Regions from separate parts of the Homo sapiens genome. Here region 2 is linked to region 1. Evidence: fine-mapped expression QTL. Tissue or cell type: testis. Region 1 holds a variant in brackets; the other region holds the start of a gene. All regions are shown on one strand. Distances are between the middles of the regions.

Region 1 (5,146 bases):
GTTAAATTGAAGGCTTTTTTTTTTTTTAAACGAGGGGCTCTGGGCTTGCAATGTGTTCTTGTGAAATGAATGAATGAATGAACAAATGGCTTTAGAAATCAGACAATTATATTTCCCTAAAGTTTTTGAAAGATTCCATAAAATAAAAAGACTATTTGGAAGCACAAAACCAGGGAAAATTGCCTTGGTTTCTCATTACCTACTGGCAGGGGTTGCTCAGAGCTGAGCGGTATAGAATAGACAGACCTGGATTTACTATGCTTTATCTTACCTGATATTCAAAACTATCTTACAAGTGGAATACTAGTAACATCTCGCCACCCCCCAACCCTTTTTTTTTTTTTTTTGGAGACAGAGTGTAGCTCTGTTACCTAGGCTGGAGTGCAGTGGCGCAATCTCGGCTCACTGAAACCTCTGCCTCCTGGGTTCAAGAGATTCTCCTGCCTCAGCCTCCCGAGTAGCTGGGACCAGAGGCACGTGCCACCACACCCGGCCAATTTTTGTATTTTTAGTAGAGACGGGGTTTCACCATGTTGGCCACGCTAGTTTCAAACTCCTGACCTCAGGTGAACCACCCGCCTCAGCCTCTCAAAGTGTTGGGATTACAGGCGTGAGCCACCGCACCCAGCCAGCATCTCCCTTCAATGGATAAGGAAATCAGAGCTTCCAGAAGTTAAGTGAGGTTTGCGGACACTTTATTGTTGGGCACAAACTCAACAAGTCTGACTCTAGTGTAACTGGTAACTCCCATGCCAACATGGAATTCAGAGCCTCTAGTGGTGGGATTTCTTGCAGGCCCTGTCATCCCTGGGCTGAGGTTCTTGTGGAAGGTCAAGGTGGCTGGGTGGAACTTGGCAGTGTGGTCAATCAACAGCGCATGGGCATTGAAATTAGGATACTTAGATTCAAAACAGATCTCTCACTTTCTGATTTAGGGCAAGTTACTTGACTTCACCTGCCTCCATTTTCTCAATTGTAACGTGGAACCGAGAAATGACAATGTGCCAGCAGCCCTCCCTCGCTATCGGCGCCTACTCTGGCCGTGCTTGAGGAGCCCTTCAGCCTACCGCTGCGCTGTGGGAACCGCTCTCTGGGGTTGGCCCAGGCTGAAGCCAGCTCCTTTGCTCGCAGGGAGTGTGGAGGGAGAGCCGCGGGCGGGAGCCGGGGCTGCGCGCGGCGCTCGTGGCCGGCGCGCGGTCTCGGCAGTCGCCGAACTTCACTGTCAACTGACGTCTGCTGGGCTTGACTAGGGAAAAAGCTCCCTCTGGGCTGCCAGAGTGCCCGAATTGGGTGCTGCAAAGTGCCCCAGCGCCTGCCGGTAAGAGGTGAAACCGGCTGGGTTTCTGGGAGGGGTGCGAACTTGGAGAACTTTTGTGTCTAGCTAAAGGATTGTAAACTCACCAATCAGCATTCTCTGTGTCTAGCTAAAGGTTTGTAAAAGTACCAATCAACACTCTGTGTCTCGCTAATCTTGTGGGGACTTGGAGAACTTTTGTGTCTAGCTAAAGGATTGTAAACGCACCAGTGAGCACTCTGTGTCTAGCTAAAGGTTTGTAAACACACCAATCAGCACCCTGTCAAAAATGGACCAATCAGCATTCTGTAAAATGGACCAATCAGCACTCTGTAAAATGGACCAATCAGTTCTCTGTAAAATGGACCAATCAGCAGGATGTGGGTGGGGTCAGATAAGGGAATAAAAGCAGGCTGCCTGAATCAATAAGGATAACTGGTTTACGTCTGTTCTTTGTGTTGCTATAGACTTGTTGTTTGGGTTTGTGTTATCTTTTTGATCTGCAGGACTAATAGTAAAAGTCTGTAGCTTCAGTTATAGACTAAGATTACTACTCTGCCAGAAGTAGTGAATAAAGAATCAACTGGGTGGGATGAATCACGGTAGGTGTTCTATGCTTAAGAGCTGGGAGGTTTACCATCTCTGTCTGTAGCTTTGGTCGTTAAAGCAGCGGGATTCTGAAAAAAAGCTGTAGCACTCAGTGGGAAAGTAGGTAGCTTCAGTTTTTAAGTTAGTGAGATTAGGAAGGTGTGTAATGCTCCCAGTCCACTCAATGTGAAGATCTGTAATGTCATTCCTGAAGTCAGTAAGAGCACGAACCCACTATAGAGAAGAAACAAAAGAGGCAAACCCACCAGAGAGAAGAAACTTTGAGCACATCTGAACAGAAGAAATAAACTGGGGTCACATGTTTAACAATTGTAATTCTGTGAGGGTCCACAGCTTCATGCTTGAAGTCAGACTGAGAACCCACTAATTCCACACGCAGTTGTGAAAACTATAGAGGATTTTTTTTTTCTTTTGACAGTTTCACTTGTGCTGCCCAGGCTGGAGTGCAGTGGCACTATCTTGGCACACTGTGGCTTATGTCACGGGTTCAAGCGATTCTGCTGTCTCAGCCTCCCAAGTATGGATTACAGGTATGTGCTACTAGGCCCAGCCAAATTATTTACTGATCATTTTTGGTTTTGTTGCCCAGGCTGGAGTGCAGTGGTGTCCTCTGTGTACTGCAATCTTTGCCTCCCGGGGTCAAGTGGCTTGCCTCTCTCGGCCTCCTGAGTAGCTGGGACTGTAGGCACCCACTACCACACTTGGCTAATTTTTTTGTATTTTTAGTAGAGATGAGATTTCTCAACATTGGCCAGGATGTTGTTGATCTCCTGACCTTGTGATCTGCCCACCTCAGTCTCCCAGAGTGCTGGGATTACAGGAGTGACACACTCTGCCTGGCCTATTTTTCTATTTTTAATAAAGATTTTCACCACGTTGGCCAGGCTGGTCTCGATCTGACCTCAGGTGATCTGCCTGCCTTGGCCTCCGAAAGTGCTGGGGTTACAGGTATGAGCCATTGTGCCTGGTAAATAAGTTTATGTACCAGTGCTGCATCCATGTCATGTGAGCTGGTGTCTTCACCTCCATATAAATATGTTTACATGCTTTTGGAAAGAATGAAAATCTGTGGATGACGACTAAAAATGAGGAACGGCGGAAAAAAAGTCCTGAAGTTTAAATGGACCCGTTTTCTC[T/C]AGTGGTGCTTGAAACGAACTGGTTACGGGGGTCAAAAACATGATTCATCGCACCAGGGTGGTCTTTGGTAGCTCTGAGTGGCCACCGTGAGTTCAGTCTTAGTCTTGAATGCAATAGATAATCCTTATCAATTCCAATGAGCCAGTTAAACGGATTTCATGGAACTCTGCAATGGATTACTAAAATGTTCACGGCGGGGCGCCGTGGCTGAAGCGTGTAATCCCAGCGCTTTGGGAGACTGAGGCAGGCAGATAATCTGAGGTCAAGAATTCAAGACCAGCCTGGGCAACATGGTGAAACTGTACTAAAAATACAGAAGTTAGCCAGGCATGGTGATGCACACCTATAATCCAAGCTACTTGGGTGGCTGAGGCAGGAGAATTGCTTGAACCCAGGAGGGGGGAGGCGGAGGTTGCAGTCAGCTGAGATCATGCCATTGCACTCCAGCCTGGGAGACAGAGCGAGACTCCGTCTCTCTCTCTCACACACACACAAGTTCACATTGATCCCGGAGCATTAGGACCTTGGTTTCCTACTGCTGTGTGGATGGATGAGACCTCAGCTGGCATCTGAGAACCCTGGGGAGGGGAAAGAATCAAAACCAGATATACCTGCACCCAACTCCCAGGGCCTCACCTTCTCAAAACATCAACCACTGTCGCCTTATAGTGCAAAAAGCATTGTTGAGTGAAGTGCATGCACAAGTTTGATCGTGCCCCAAGTGCAAACTTGCCTTGAGAAAAATGTCATTTCCACGTCCCCCTCTTAAACATTAAGAGACCGTCTCCTACCTCTTAGGTCTGGGCAGCCTACCCCAGAATCTTGGCTCTCCCTCTCTGCCCGAATCGAAATCAGAGATTTGAAAAAGTCTGGCAAAAGGTTTTTGAAAGGTCACCAGGCCATTTCTTTGCTACCTTTAGTGGTGGTAGCATTTATCTTACCATAGACGTCAAGTCAAAAAAAAGTTCCGCAGACATTTGCGTCAGTAAAGCAAAGAGACTGGGCCTGGCTCCGCGGGACTCAGTGGTGCCCGCTGGCCCTGCCAGCTCTGCTGAGTCTGTGAGGACTGGAAGGCTTTGGAGCTGCTGCGCCGACTCCGACGTGGAAAAAGCATGTAGTCGGGGCAGCGCCTGTTTCCACAAGGAACGCAAAAAGGTGGCGTCAAGGATTACGGTCCCCCTTGCAGTAAAGTAACTGGGCAGGAAGGCGACAAAGGTACTGCGGCTCCGAACCACAGTGGGTAACAAGGGAAACCTGCTCAGACCTGTGTGTGCATCGCCAATGTCGGATTTTGGTTTGGTTTTGTTTTTTTACTTTTAAAAAGATATAAAGTCTTTGGTTCTTTGCATGAAAACATTAGTAGTGGGATGGGAAATTTATTTGGATGAAGTTCAGTAGTTACTCAAGTGATAGTCGCTCTTCCTGGGAGGATCTTAGTGATCATTAAGGTCCGGGCCACCCTTAATAAGTGCCTGTTAACAGCAGCAGTCATTGATTTTTGAAAGTGTGTGGTCGGCAGCAGAAAGCCTGGTACAGCCTTGCTTCTACCGTTTTCTCGGTTGTTTTGGAATCGCCTTTGCAAAAGCCATGCACGGCTATAGTTCTGTGATAGCACCCAGGGCTCATGGTCTCTCTCTGCTGTGTACCAAATGCGTCGAACTAGCGCTGAGGACTTCTTGCAGGGGATGTCTGTTTAACAGCGGTCATTTCTGCTTCCCTGGCGGTGAAAGCAGGAAACACCTGGAATCCTTAGATTCTGAAAACTTCATGTTACTCTCTGGAATATGTGCGTGCATGTGTGTGTGTGCATGCGTGTGCATGCGTGCGTGCATGTGTATAAGTATGATCTGCTCTAGTGCATTCTCTCAAGTGATTTTTTTAAACTGTATGATTTATTGCCTACTTTGTAAATGCAACAGGCTTACACAGCAGTTGGTCCATAACCTGCCCCCAAGCACACAGCCCTCATGACCCTACACTGGCCAAATTCACCCTTTTTTTTTTTTTTTTTTTTGAGACAGAGTCTCGCTCTTGTCACCCAGGCTGGAGTGCAGTGGTGTGATTTCGGCTCACTGCAACCTCCGCCTCCCAGGTTCAACCAATTCT
Region 2 (5,146 bases), 28 kb after region 1:
CTCCAGGACAGTCATCCTTTTTTCCCTACCTTCATCACTAAAGTCTGGGTTTGTAAAATACTGATGTATACTTGGATATTTGATGATTTTATTCTTTGGTTGGTAAAAGGTATAGAATTGTATGGAGCATTTTATTTACCTCTCCAGCAAAATTCCCATGGGCTGGTCTCTATTTTTCATACTTTTGCAAACAGTACAGAATGACAGGCCATGAAGAAATGCTGACTCATGCGCTCATGAGGAAGTTGAATTGTAGATCTGGGCCCAACACACACAATGCAGCGTAAGATGAGGGAGAAGATAACCAGTCACGACCATTAAAATTGTTCCTTTCCAATTAGAAAAAAATAATTCATGACCATTTTATAAAATGTGGAAAATAGGAAAAAAATACATAGAAGAAAGTAAAATTTACCATAATCCTAAAACTCTAAAATAAATGCTGTTAAAACAGTTGGGCTTCTTTTAGTCTTTTCAAAATAGGTCATTTTAAGAATTGTTGATTTGGCCAGGCGGGGTGGCTCACATCTGTAATCCCAGCACTTTAGGAGGCCAAGGTGGGCAGATTACTTGAGGTCAGGAGTTCGAGATCAGCCTGACCAACATGGAGAAACCCCGTCTCTACTAAAAATACAAAAGATTAGTCGGGCGTGGTGGCAGGCGTCTGTAATCCAGCTACTTGGGAGGCTGAGACAGAATTGCTTCAACCCAGGAGGCGGAGGTAGCAGTGAGCCGAGATTGCACCACTGCATTCCAGCCTGGGTGACAGAGCAAGGCTCCATCTCAAAAAAAAAAGAAAAGAAAAAGAAAACAGACGACAGGTGCAGTGGCTCACACCTGTAATCCCAGCACTTTGGGAGGCCAAGGTGGGTGGATCACCTGAGGTCGGGAGTTCGAGACCATCCTGACCAACATGGAGAAACCCCGTCTTTAATAAAAATACAAAAAATTAGCAGGGCATGGTGGCGCATGCCTGTAATCCCAGCTACTCGGAGGCTGAGACAGGAGAATTGCTTGAACCCAGGAGGCAGAGACTGCGGTTAGCCAAGATCGTGCCATTGCCCTCCAGCCTGGGCAACAAGAGCAAAACTCGGTCTCAAAAAAAAAAAAAACGAAAAAGAAAAGAAAAATAATCATTGATTTGGGCCGGGTGTGGTGGCTCACGCCTGTAATCCTAGCACTTTGGGAGGCCAAGAGGGGTGGATCACTTGAGTCCAGGAGTTCAAGATCATCCTGGTCAACATGGTGAAACCCTTTCTGTACTAAAAATACAAAAATTACCCGGGCATAGTGGTGGATGCCTGTAGTCCCAGCTACTCAGGAGGCTGAGGCAGGAGAATTGCTTGAACCTGGGAGGCAGAGGGTGCAGTGAGCTGAGATTGTGACACTGCACTGGGTGACAGAGCAAGGCTCTGTCACAAAAAAAAAAAAAAAAAAAAAAAGTTGATTTGCTATTTCTTCAGTTTATCCTGGCTTTATGACTGGAAAAAAATTTTTTTTAACTCAGTTGGATTTTTTCTTTTTTTTTTTTTTTTTTTAAGTTGATGTCTCACTATGTTGCCCAGGCTGGTCTCAGAATTCCTGGGCTCAAACAACCCTCCCGCCTCAGCCTCCCTAGTAGCTGAAACTGCAGGTGCACACCACCATACCCTGCTTTATCCCCACTGAATTTTATAAGCTGCTTCTGACTGCAAAGTGTTTGGCAGAAGAGAGGGATATGGCTAAATGCACGGTATGACTAGCTTGTTTCCTGGGACAGGAATCAGTTCATTCCTGAAAGGGTATGTAAAGAGCCCGTTTGCCTGGCCTAGGAAAAGCCAGAGGTTCAGAGAGAGGAAGTGACTTGCTCAAGATATACAGCTTGCATTAGAGAGGAGAGAACTTGCCTTCTGAAAATGCCCAGGGCATTTTCTACTAAATTCTGCTGCCACCTTAGGATTCCCCTTCCCCAGTGTGGGTAGCATTTGAGCAGAACACATATCTAAATCTGTTAGAGGTTACCCTGGGGCAGAGACTATAAGATTTCCTACCAATAACTAAACATAAGAGTGGAACCTTAAACACGAGGGGTCTGTGAGGGAATCCAAAACTTCCCCTCTTGAAAAAGCAGCCTCTAAGGGGGCAAAATGGAGGGTAGTCTTAGGAAAACACCCAAATAATTATCCTGAGGTCTATCTTGGAGTGTCCTCATGAAAAACCCAGTTACACCCAGGGCAGTTACCTTTCTGAGCGGTTTCTTATAACATTCCTGGAGTGGAAAGTGATCAACTCAAAGCCCTCCAGGACTCTAGAGGCAGGGGATGAGCTGGTGTCAGGTAGCACCTGGTATCCAGCAGCTTAAAAAATCCAGACTCTAGGCAGGCTCTCTGTAGACGTGTGTTCTCCTGTCTCAGACTCTTAGGGCAGGCCTTGGGGGTGGGACTGAAAGCAAACAGACCTTCCCACTTTCACATTCCAGCCTCTGTTATTCCACTTAAAACGCTAGGGTTAAACTGCGTTTACCTTAAACAGGCTTACTGTGTTCACTGCTGGACGCCTCTGGGCAATCTTACCCTCCTGGGAACTGAGAGAGGTAGGTGGAGGTCAGCGTGCTGGGAAACTGGTGGAGGGAGGAAACTGCGGGGAGCTGGTCTTCTCGTGTTACCTCTGTTAAATCGCTGACAGCAGTTTAAGGTCCAATAGGCTGGTACTCAAATGGGCTGCGTGGATGTTTTATATTTCCAGAACCTAGCACAGTGCCGGGCATAAAGTAAGTACACCAAAAAATGTTGAATGAGTCATTTGGTCATGAGATTTCTGTTTTCAAAGGTTTTTTTTTTTTCAAAGAATAGCATGTTTGTATGTTGTTTCATTACATGATGGGCCTACTGGGCACGAGGGTTTTCCATCTGTCTCTAAATCATTAGTATCCTTCTGTATCTCAGTTACAACTTTTAACTTTGTAGGAAAGAACAACGTTCACTTCAGACTTAATGGTTTATGTTTCTCAGTTCCTTCAGGCAAGGGAAAATGTTTCCAGAATTTGATAAGGTACTTGGTACTGTCTGGCATTTAAATTTTTTTTTTTTTTTCCAGACATAGTCTCACTCTGTCACCCAGGCGAGAGTACGGTGGTGCGATCTCAGCTTACTGCAACCCCCACCTCCTGGGTCCTGCCTCAGCCTCCTGAGTAGCTGGGACTACAGGCATGCACAACCAAGCCCGGCTAATTTTTGTATCTTTAGTAGAGATGGGGTTTCATCATGTTGGCCAGGCTGGTCTCAAACTCCTGACTCCATGTGATCCACCTGCCTCAGCCTCCTGAAGTGCTGGGATTACAGGCGTGAGCCACCGTCCACAGCCTGAAATGTATTTTATTTAATTAGTTGCTGTGAGGTATGAACATTCCTGTGAGGTATGAACCTCATTTGATAATAGGTAAAATTGAAAATGAAGCTCTGGGCCATGTAGAAAAGTAGTAGATCCATATTGCCATTCTATGAAAACCCATCTTCTGATATTAAAGACAGGTCTACTAAGTAAATTCAGGTTTTGCCAAACTCAAAGCTACTTTTCTGTTTTCCTTATTTTTAAATGTAGGCCTTTGAGAGTCGTCACTTGTAAATAGTCTTTCTGCACCTGGTAGTAGATTGGCCAAATAGAGGGTAGTTACCTGTAGGCTGTGGTTTTCCAGAAGAAATAGGGAGACTGTAATCCCAGGCCCTGGGGACCCTACAGCGTAAAGGATCTGTTTCTTTGCACTCTGTTCTGATTGAACAGCATATTGCAATTATCGGAAGAAGGGAGGCTATATTCTTTCATGTAATTATTCTTAGTGATCAGAAGCTTGAGGTCTCCCTTGTGGAAGTATTCTACCTATGGCAGTAATTTTTGGTTCCTGTAACTTCAAAATCCTATCAAGGACTTTCTGAGCGATAGAGGTCGGGAGGGTAAGAGCAAAACTCCATCCAGAAAGGTGAAAACAACAAACAAAGCCTCGGGCACGGAGATTGGGCTGCTGTTCTAGCTTCTCATAATATCCCATTTATAGAATACACTCAATCCTCAACTCCAGGGTAACTTTCTGCAACAGTAAAATTAGACTTAAAACGAATGAGGTTCTCCAGCTCTGGCTTCTCCCGGAGACCCTGGCTTGGAAAGCCTGGAGTTGTCAGATATCTTTTCATGTGCAAACGCAGGCGGAAAGTGCCTTTAAGGCCTCGACTCCGCCTAGTAACTGAGCTGCTATTTAACTTTGCTCAGTCTTGCATTGCCTCAAAGTTATTTGACTGAGCTTGAAAAGACCAGCTTTCAGCCAGGCGCGGTGTGGCTCATGACTGTAATCCCAGCACTTTGGGAGGCCGAGTCAGGCGGATCACCTGAGATCAGGAGTTCGAGACCAGCCTACCAGCATGGTGAAACCCCATCTCTACTAAAAAGAAAATACAAAAATTAGCCGGGTGTGGTGGCACATGCCTGTAACCCCAGCTGCTCGGGAGGCTGAGGCAGGAGAATTGCTTAAACCCGGGAGGCAGAGGCTTCAGTGAGCCGGGATGGCGTCATTACACTGCAGACGGGGCAACAAGAGCGAAACTCCGTCTCAAAAGAAAAAAAAAAAAAAAAAGACCAGCTTTCTCTTATAGTTTCCTATTACTTTTTTTCCCAGCTATTTTTTGTTAAACGATCACAACCCACTTCATTTCCCCCTCGTAGCCTCTTCTTCCCCACAGCTTTCCATCCAGGTCTGGAATTAGCTCTGACTTCTCTAGAAGCCCTGAGCTGAGCACGTTAGGTGCCCTACCTCCAGAATCCTCCCAGCATGGCCTGGAGATTGCTGTTGTCTTGACTCTAGACTTGAAAAACCAAGGCCGGGCGCTGTGGCTCATGCCTGTAATCCCAGCACTTTGGGAGGCCGGGGTGGGCGGATCACGAGGTCAGGAGATCGAGACCATCCTGGCTAACACGGTGAAACCCCGTCTCTATTAAAAATACAAAAAAATTAGCCGGGCTTGGTGGTGGGCGCCTGTAGTCCCAGCTACTCGGGAGGCTGAGGCAGGAGAATGGCCTGAACCCGGGAGGCGGAGCTTGCAGTGAGCCGAGATCGCGCCACTGCACTCCAGCCTGGGTGACAGAGCGAGACTCTGTCTCAAAAAAAAAAAAAAAAAAA

What was found. PIP is the estimated chance that this variant, and not a neighbour inherited with it, causes the effect.
Region 2: GCNT2 starts here. The variant in region 1 is fine-mapped to the expression of GCNT2 in testis (GTEx, PIP above 0.99).

What each region holds. Positions count from the first base shown.
Region 1 is chr6:10,490,499-10,495,644 of GRCh38, forward strand. No RefSeq gene overlaps it. Among named protein-coding and RNA genes, the nearest start is that of LINC02522, 11 kb to the left of the region's middle. The variant T/C (reference allele first, on the strand shown) is at 3,040.
Region 2 is chr6:10,518,846-10,523,991 of GRCh38, forward strand. GCNT2 (glucosaminyl (N-acetyl) transferase 2 (I blood group)) reads left to right here and starts at 2,506. Exons shown (of 5, transcript NM_145649.5): 1 at 2,506-2,572. It overlaps LOC101928146 (a long non-coding RNA gene), which reads right to left and starts at 2,561. Exons shown (of 3, transcript XR_001743961.2): 1 at 2,503-2,561. RefSeq lists enhancers at 1-137, 153-297, 377-1,072, 2,793-2,852 and a cis regulatory region at 220-230.